Linked DNA regions of Homo sapiens: region 1 is linked to region 2. Evidence: fine-mapped expression QTL. A gene starts in region 2. The other region holds a variant in brackets. All regions are shown on one strand. Distances are between the middles of the regions. Region 1 overlaps SCPPPQ1 (secretory calcium-binding phosphoprotein proline-glutamine rich 1). Region 2 holds the start of NUDT9 (nudix hydrolase 9).

Evidence for each region. PIP is the estimated chance that this variant, and not a neighbour inherited with it, causes the effect.
Region 1: its variant is the best candidate, but not a certain one, in a credible set for the expression of NUDT9 in monocytes (TOPMed, PIP 0.83).

What each region holds. Positions count from the first base shown.
Region 1 is chr4:87,465,297-87,469,688 of GRCh38, reverse strand. SCPPPQ1 (secretory calcium-binding phosphoprotein proline-glutamine rich 1) reads left to right here. Exons shown (of 10, transcript NM_001405228.1): 3 at 27-97; 4 at 1,678-1,710; 5 at 1,803-1,880. The coding sequence starts at 41. Among named protein-coding and RNA genes, the nearest start is that of SCPPPQ1, 3.6 kb to the left of the region's middle. The variant T/C (reference allele first, on the strand shown) is at 2,021.
Region 2 is chr4:87,420,738-87,425,129 of GRCh38, reverse strand. It overlaps NUDT9 (nudix hydrolase 9), which reads right to left and starts at 2,557. Exons shown (of 8, transcript NM_024047.5): 1 at 2,118-2,557. The coding sequence starts at 2,224. RefSeq lists enhancers at 186-687, 688-1,191, 1,735-2,669, 2,739-2,788.

The sequences.
Region 1 (4,392 bases), 45 kb before region 2:
ATGATCTCCTACCCCTTCAATTCCAGGCTCGACCTTTAGAATGAAATTTCTCATCTTGGCTGGCCTTTTGAGCACTGCCACTGCTCTGCCCATCCCCGTGAGTACACCCTCCTCAGCTGCTGACTCAATTTCAGATTTAGAGTCATCGCATTTCTCGGCTAGAAAGCAGGTCTTATCTTTTCATTTCACAAAAGAGGAAAGCGGAACCCAGGAAAGTCATAGAACTAGGAGTTCACCACTCTTTGTCAGTCCAAGACTCTGCCCAGTACAAATCTCAGCTCCATATGCCATGTGCTAGCTGTGTGACTTTGAACTAACCCATGGTTTCCTTGTCTATAAAATGAGTCCTAGGAACACCTCAGAGTTGCACGGAGATGATTTTTTTAATGCATCTAAGGCAGAGAAGGGTCCTATTTGAAAGATAGGATGTTCTCAATAAACTCAGTGATATAGAACAAATATTCTGCAGTGACCCAGGTCTAAATTAAGCAGTTTGAATTGAGTTTCATTTGTAATGCCCTTGCCCCAAACCATCTCATGTTTTCTTAAAAGGCTGTTACATGGAAATGCTCTGACACCAAAGGACTATCTACCTCATTGTAGATTTGATTTTAAAGAAGGAAATATTTAAGATAACTTACATTGATTACTAAATTATGAATATAAAAACAACTTATGCCTGAATTATATTTGAGTGATCATACAGACACACCTTTAAAGTCCAATTTTTGAAAACCAGATTTGGATAAAAAGCTACATTCATCTATAGTGCCCTTGATAACAAACCTAATTTGTTTCTTTAGACCACAATCCTTTTTGCCAAAGCTGGCAAGTATCGTGGTCTAAAATTCCAAACAATTTGTATTGCCTGTTTCTTTAGGCTGATGGGAATGCTGCAGTATACATATTTCATTAATTCTAATATGTACTTTTTGATATTTCAGCAGCTCTGAAATTGAGCTGTGTCTTAAAAACACAATTTGATAAAGTGTCACGGCAGCTTAACAGCAGCGCTTTTCTTTTTTGGTAATTTATGAAATAATGGTGCTTTTGACAATGATAGCATCTAAGAATATATGAAATACTGTAATCCCAGAACATCATTAACTTCACCTATATAGACATTTTGTCATCAACTGACTATATACAAATGAGATCCACTGAGTCTAATCTGGGTTTACTAGTCTGAATATGAGGGCACCAAGTAGGCAAGAAACTCTCTCCCCTGCACACTTTGTATCAAAGGAGCTTTTGAAGAAGTGAGGGAGCTTTCAAAATTTGTGTTTGGGGTGCAGAACTTAAGTGTACATTTCCACACTCCCTTCACTTTGAGTTTATAACTACTGAGAACTAAATCAAGAACACCATTCAAAGATTTACAAAAGGAAATATTCATGTAATATGGAATTAATCTTAAGAAATGTAAATAAAAGCATTCTTTGGATATAAATTTAAAAGCAAAAAGCCTTGGTCTTCCAAATCATTGCACAAAATTAATTAAACTTTTCCCTATTAGATATCCAACTGCTTTTTATTTCAGAAGTGAAGTTACATTACTGATGGGTATAATGCTCCATAGTGGCTTATTACTTATTCTCCTTTAGAACAAAACCTCTCTTTAGTGGATAATGTATTTCCATATGCTGCTTTACCTTGTTGCTGTTATTGTTTTGCAAGCTCGAACAATATGCTGAAAGTTCCAGTGAACAGGTGAACTTCTAATTGTATTTTTAAATAATGCATTCATCATTTTAAAAGTCTGCCATTGTCTGAAATGACTGACATCATGTTTCTTTTTACAGAGATTTATCTTTTACCCACCACAAGTACCACCATTTTTCCCTCAGGTCCTCTTTCCCCTACCTCCGCAACCGCCCCTGGTAAGCATGGGTTTGGGGAATCTGAAATAGCTAAAAGGATTTATTTGTTGGATGGTGGTTATGAAACTTTCCAAATTTTGATACTGAAATATGAGGCTTTAGGCAGTCCCCAGGAATCAGCTATTCAAACTTCTCTCCCA[T/C]ATAGCTTATAGTGGAACGTGACAAGGGGCTAGCAAATTTCCCTCCAAATCTTCAGTGCCCTCTCGCAGTGTTTCTCTGCACTTACTATTAAAAAGGTGTTTGTGCTGAATTACTTTGACCGTTACGAGCTTACTCTTTATGAAGAGAATACTTCTTTCTATAATATCCATTCTTTTGCTTTTTCAAATTCACCTTGTTGCTTTCTTTCTCTAAGAAGATTTTTTTTCCCCAGCTTTCTATAACTTTTTCCCAAGTTCAAGCAAAATAGTTATTTTGCTTTTCTGTTTGGACTCTCTCCAGGCTCTCCTAATATCTGGATTCTTAAAACATTTTTTCAATAAAGTTTGGAACAATGCTAAATACACAATAGAGTTGCCTTTATTCTATATATAACACTTTTGTAAGTCGACTACATTATAGAGTCAACGGTGAGTGCTTGAGGTACAAACAGTATAAGTTCAGATCTGATGAGGAAGAGAGACTCATAAAGGGAAACTACAATGTAATTTGATAAGTATTTCGAGACACAAATACAAAGCTATGGATCAAAGACTTCAGAGAAGACAGTATCTGAACCAGGTCTTGAAGGAAGACAAATGGATGAAACATTTCAGGCAGAGGAACAGCAAGTGCATGGGTGCAGACTTGAAAAGCACAAGGCAATTTGCGGGTAGAAAATTATTTTAGTCTAAAATAATGATGCTGCAACACAGATTGGGGCCTTGTTAAATTTGGATAAGTATTTAAGCAATGATTTTTTTCTTTAAAAATCACATACATTTTAAAACTTCACATACCCCTTATTTACAGACAAGGACCTCACTATGTCACCCAGGCTAGTCTCAAACTCCTGGGCTCAAGTGATCCTCCCACCTCCCACAGGCTCCCCAGTAGCTGGATTATAGGTGCACACCACCATGCCCAGCTCACAAACATTTTAAAACTACATCTTGCTTAATATTGTCTGATCTCCTAAATATTTTTAAATATACAAACATGATTTTGTGTAACTGTTTTTATATCTAAATTTAATAAACACCTTCCCTTTGCTTGCATTTAATTTCAAACTGTGTTTCTCTCAACTTTTAAAAATTTGTCACTAAACTTAGTCCTCAATAGAACATTTCTTCTCCTTTAATGTTTTTACTTGTTCTGATTGAATCCCAGCTGTTAAATTCTAAATATTATTCTTGCACTTATAATTAATTGCTAATTATTTTGGTTCTAGTCAGGACTAGGTGCATTGTTTCCCTATTGTTTGCTAAAATTTGTTTTTTTTGTTTTCGTTTTTGTTTTTTGAGACAGAGTCTCTCTCTGTTGCCCAGGCTGGAGTACAGTGGTGCAATCTCAGCTCACTGCAACCTCCGCCTCCCAGGTTCAAGCAATTCTCCTGCCTCAGCCTCCCGTGTAGCCACCATGCCTGGCTAATTTTTGTGTTTTTAGTAGAGATGGGTTTCACCATGTTAGTTGGGCTGGGCGAACTCACTCCTGACCTCAAGTGATCTGCCTGCCTCGGCCTCCCAAAGTGCTAGGATTACAGGCATGAGCGACCGTGCCCTGGCAAGATTTATTTTAAACTGATGCAAAATCTTGGAGTCTTGGTTTATAATTAGAACTTAGGAATCGCTGTTAACATTTAAATTTAAATTTATTTAAATCTATATGACAATTAAAAGAATCACTCTTCTGTGAAATGGAAACTCTTCCTACCACCAGATGGCAGACTAGTATCTTCAAAGCAAGCAAAGAAAGTAACACTTACTGTAGGGAAAGTGGTAGATTTGTAAAAACTATCAACACATTAAGACAGATTCCTGGGCTTTAAGTTAGATAAATTAAGAAGAACAACCATACCTCTTGAAAGAAAATATTATATTGAACCCACTAGATTCTAATCTCCACCAAATAGAAGGTGAGCTCTCTAAGTGTCATTTACTGCTATCCCTAAACCCTAGATATAGAATAATTGCTCAGTAAATATTGTAGGGATGGATGGATAGATGGGTGGAAGGATGAGTGAATGTATGAATAAATGAGAAAAAGCAAGAGAGAGTGTTCACAGTTTCATTCACAATTTACTTTTTTTTTTTTTTTTTTTTTTTTTTTTTGTAGATTTCTATTCCTTTTCCTTTTCCTTACAATCCAAATCAGGTGGTTATACTTAAAGCTTCCTTAGGAAATACTTAAACTAATACAAAACAAAAACTTGAAAATTCTTTAGATTTAATTGGGGAGAATTTGATACCAATAATTACTGGCTAACATTCTCTTTGGGGGACCACTAGTTATTGATATTTTGTTTGATTTGAGTAATTGAATGTTCAAATTTCACATATCCTTGAAAACTGAATTACCTAAGACCTGAAACTTT
Region 2 (4,392 bases):
CCTGCCTCAGCCTTCCAAAGCACTGGGATTACAGGTGTTAGCCACTGTGCCTGGCCATAAAATTCTTTTTTTGTTTTTCTTGAGACATTGTATCACTCTGTCACCCAGAATGGAATGCAGTGGCATGATCTCAGCTCACTGCAACCTCCACCTCCCCGGTTCAAGCTATTCTGCCACATTAGTTACCAGGTACTTGGCACATTTGTTAACTGTTGGCTTTTTCTTTCAAGTCAGTACAGTCTCTGGTTCTGGATATACCTGCCTCATGTAGGGTTCCCAGAGTTACAAAAACGAAGAATAACTGTCAAGCAACTTTACACTGTTCTGCTGGCATCTAACAAAAAGAGCATTAGAGATTTCCAGAGAGCACACACGTGTATTCCTTCCTTCCTCAAATCCCACTAAAAGAAGATAAAGATAGATAAAGGGAAATAAAATCCGTACCAGGAGAAGGAATAAATGCCACCAGTGAATGACAGATGGTAACCAACTTCAGGAAAATGAAAAGTTGTTGGAATATTGACCTACAAACCAGAGTAGGACAAAGTAAAATAAGAATATGCACCAAGGCCGGGCGCGGTGGCTCACGCCTGTAATCCCAGCACTTTGGGAGGCCGAGACGGGCGGATCACGAGGTCAAGAGTTCAAGACCAGATCAGCCTAACCAAGATGGTGAAACCCTGTCTCTACTAAAAATACAAAAAAAATTAGCCGGGCGTGCGCGCGCCAGTAATCTCAGCTACTCAAGAGGCTGAGGCAGAAGAATCGCTTGAACCCAGGAGGCGGAAGTTGCAGTGAGCCGAGATCGCGCCACTGCGCTCCAGCCTGGGCGACAGAGCGAAACTCCTTCTCAAAAAAAAAAAAAAAAAAAAAAACGCATTAGGGAGAAATGCTATTCCTACAAGCTGAGCCGAGCTAGAGGTTTCAAGCTTGAAGTCAGTGGGCCCAAGGATCATAAACTGGCAGCGCGACAATAACCATGGAAATCACTCAGTCCTCCTCCCTCCCCAATCTCCAAGCAAAAAGTCCAAAATAGTTATGTTTGTCTCCAAGATAAAATCAAAAGTTTTTTAGAAATGAAGGGGTAGGACCCCTACTGTGAATACTGGTGTTAAGAGTACACAGCAGAAACTTAGGCTTAATAATTTTACAGTTCACACGGAGGAAATAAACAGCTATACTCAGCAGAGAAGTTGCTCCACCACTACTGCAAAGCCTGAAGCAAAAGGCAGGTTCCCAGTCTACCCATCTGGTACCTGCTCACATGCCCTCAACTGAAACCTTCCTATCTAGGCAACCTGGTACAGAGCCAAAAGTCAATTAGCGACCCATGTACTGAAAACAAGACCTATTACTCATATTAATCAAAATATAGACAGATAACCAGTGCCCATCACATGTTCGAGAAAAAGCAACAGAAGGAAACAGGACCAAAAAGACACAGAACAATTGACCAACAGTAAGTAAATTATTTAGGAAATAGATTTTTCTAATTATCATCTTTGTAGATTCAAGACTTTTAATATCTATAAAATAAGAAAAGGCTGCTGCACCTAGGACCCTGTGTTTACTAACTCAAAGAATAAAAACTGGAGAAGGGAAGAACAGAAGGAGGCAGTGTAAGACACCATAAATCCCTAAATTTAACCACAATAGACAAATTATTAAAAAAAAGGAGGTAGATAGTAAATATAATATATTGTCCACCCTGGAAAGGGGACAGGGGGAATAGTGATTTTACTTTTCATTTTACATTTTCAAGTTGTTTTAACTATGTACATGTATTAATACTAATAATAATGTTTTAAGTATTAACCATAAAAAAATGGCACGGGACACCACCACCCCAAACAATTGCTATTTAAACTCTCTCGTGATACTAACAATGATTTACAGAGAATGGCAAATTTCAAAATCAGAAGTCAAGAAGGGTCCCTGCCACTCGTTTTCCTCAAAAGGCAGATAAAATATTTTAGAGCCTTTTTGAAAACTTGTATATGACTATAAAAACCCGAGAGGCAAAGCAAAGCCTACAGAATACGCCAGAAAAAAAAGCTGCTTCCCACCCCCAACTCAAGGTCTAGGGCAAAGGAGCCGGTAGTAGGAGGGTGGAATACCTGAACGCCTGGATGCCGCGGCAGCGCGAGGACCTGATAGTCACAGAGGCCAAGGCCAGAGAGAGAGACACCGCGGCTAAAGCCTTTCCCAGGAGGCGTCCCGCCATGAGCGCCCCGAGGGCGGCTTTGCGATGCTAGGTCGCTCTTAGTTGGTGCCTCCGCCTCCCCACACCCCACAGCTCCGAGTCCCGGCCGCGGGTATCTGATGGGCACTAGGACCTGTCTGCCGTTGGGTTCCCGAACGGGAGTAGCTGTGCCTATCTATAAATCACAGATCAAGAGCCCTCCCACGATAAGAGTCCACCGCTTTCCCCAGTGCATCGAGAAAAATCCAGACCAGCACGTGACGCCGAAGCCTCCAGCGCCAGCTGCCTGGGGAAACCGCGGCCACGAACCTCGTAACTTTCTCTCTGCGTAATGGCGCTTTACGGCCGCGCCGCAAAGCAAAGGTCGTGCGTTGCCGGCTTGGTAGCGCCTTCCTTCTCCGACTTCCCAGACTTCCCAGTCTGCGCAGGCTTACTTGGGGACGCAGGGAACTACCAAGAAAGTGTCAGAGGAAAGGAAAGGTGAAACAGACGAGGAACTGGAACGGGAATAAGTGGGAAAGAAGCCAAGGGGTTTGAGAGAGACTTGCTGCCCTGGGTTTTTGGTTTTTGTTTTTTGAGACAAGAGTCTGGCTCTGTCGCCCAGGCTGCAGTGCAGGGGCGCGATTTCAGCTCATTGCCGCCTCAACCTCCTGGGCTTAAGCGAGTCTCTTGTCTCAGCCCCCGACGTAGCTGGGACTACAGGCACACACCGCCATACCTGGCTAATTTTTGTATGTTTTGTAGCGACAGATTTTTGCCATGTTGCCCAGGCTGGTCTCCAACTCTCAAGCTCAAATAATCCAACTGTTTGGGCCTCCCACAGTGCTGAGGTTACAGGCCTCAGCCAACGCGCCTGGCCCTGCTCTGGTTTTTTTAGGGAGTAAGTTGTTGCGGAAGGACGCAGGTCTTAGCCATATTTTTGAATAATACTTCGTTATGGGAATGAAACCGCCTTTGCAAAATTATGACTGATTTGGGAGGCCGAGGCGGGATCACTTGCAGTCAGGAGTTCAAGACCAGCCTGGCCAACGTGGTGAAACCTCGTCTCTACTAAAAATACAAAAATTAGCTGGGCATGGTGGTAAACGCGCCTGTAGTCCCAGCTGCTCAGGAGGATGAAGCAGGAGAATCGCTTGAACCCGGGAGGTGGAGGTTGCAGTGAGCCAACGTCGCACCACTGCACTCCACCCTGGGCGACAAGAGTGAAACTACGTATCAAAAAAAAAAAGAAAAAACCTCTGCTCCCTGAATGCTCAGGGAGACTGATTTGAGTAATAATAGAACTCCGGTCTCACACAGCTGGCTCTGCATGAATTACTCTTTCTCTATTGCAATTCCCCTGTCTTGATGAATCAGCTCTGTCTAGGAAGCGGGAAAGGTGAACCCCTTGGGCGGTTACAGCAAGAGGAGATAGTCCAGAGACTCAGCCCTCGTATCTTGAAGGGTTTCTTGGTTTTTTGTTTTTGTTTTCTTAACCAAGTTGTCTGCTCCAATTGCTGGATTTCATTCACAAGGCTTTGCTAGGACCAGTTGTGGCCCTTGGAAACTCGTGGAGGAGAAAAGCTGTGAAAATAGGCACACATGCTGGAGGAGGAACAGAGGGCAACACACATAATACTGGATAATAAACTTGAGAGGCAAAAATTAAACAAACCGACAAACAAAGTTGGAAACCCAGACTGTCCAAAGCAGCTTGTAATCAGGCTTACTTCATTTATATTAGCTTATTGATGTGGCAACTATTTGACTTTTACTTACATGATCCGCTGTTTCTGTGGTGTGGTTCCAATACACCGACGTTACAAAACTTTGACCATCTTAAAAGCCAGATTAATCGAATTTTAACAACCATTGTTCTGAAAACTGCAGAACTCTCGACAGGTATTGACTGTTCAAACTACACTGTCAACCTAGACGCTGAGGCACGAGATAGAACTTAAAGCATTTACTTTAGCCAAAGTGAGGACAGCTGCCCAGAAGACCCAGACCCAAGTAACCTTAAATGTGAACTCCTGTCCACCTTTGTTACAATCAGGTTTTTAAAGGCAAAAAGGGGACAGGGAGTTGACTGATACAAAGTTGTAAAGAATTACTGGTTTGTAGAAATAGTATTGGTTAGTGGTTGGCTATACGTTAAGCTATAGGGTGCGAGTTACAGTGTCCAGTGTACCATTATTAGGTTAATTTTT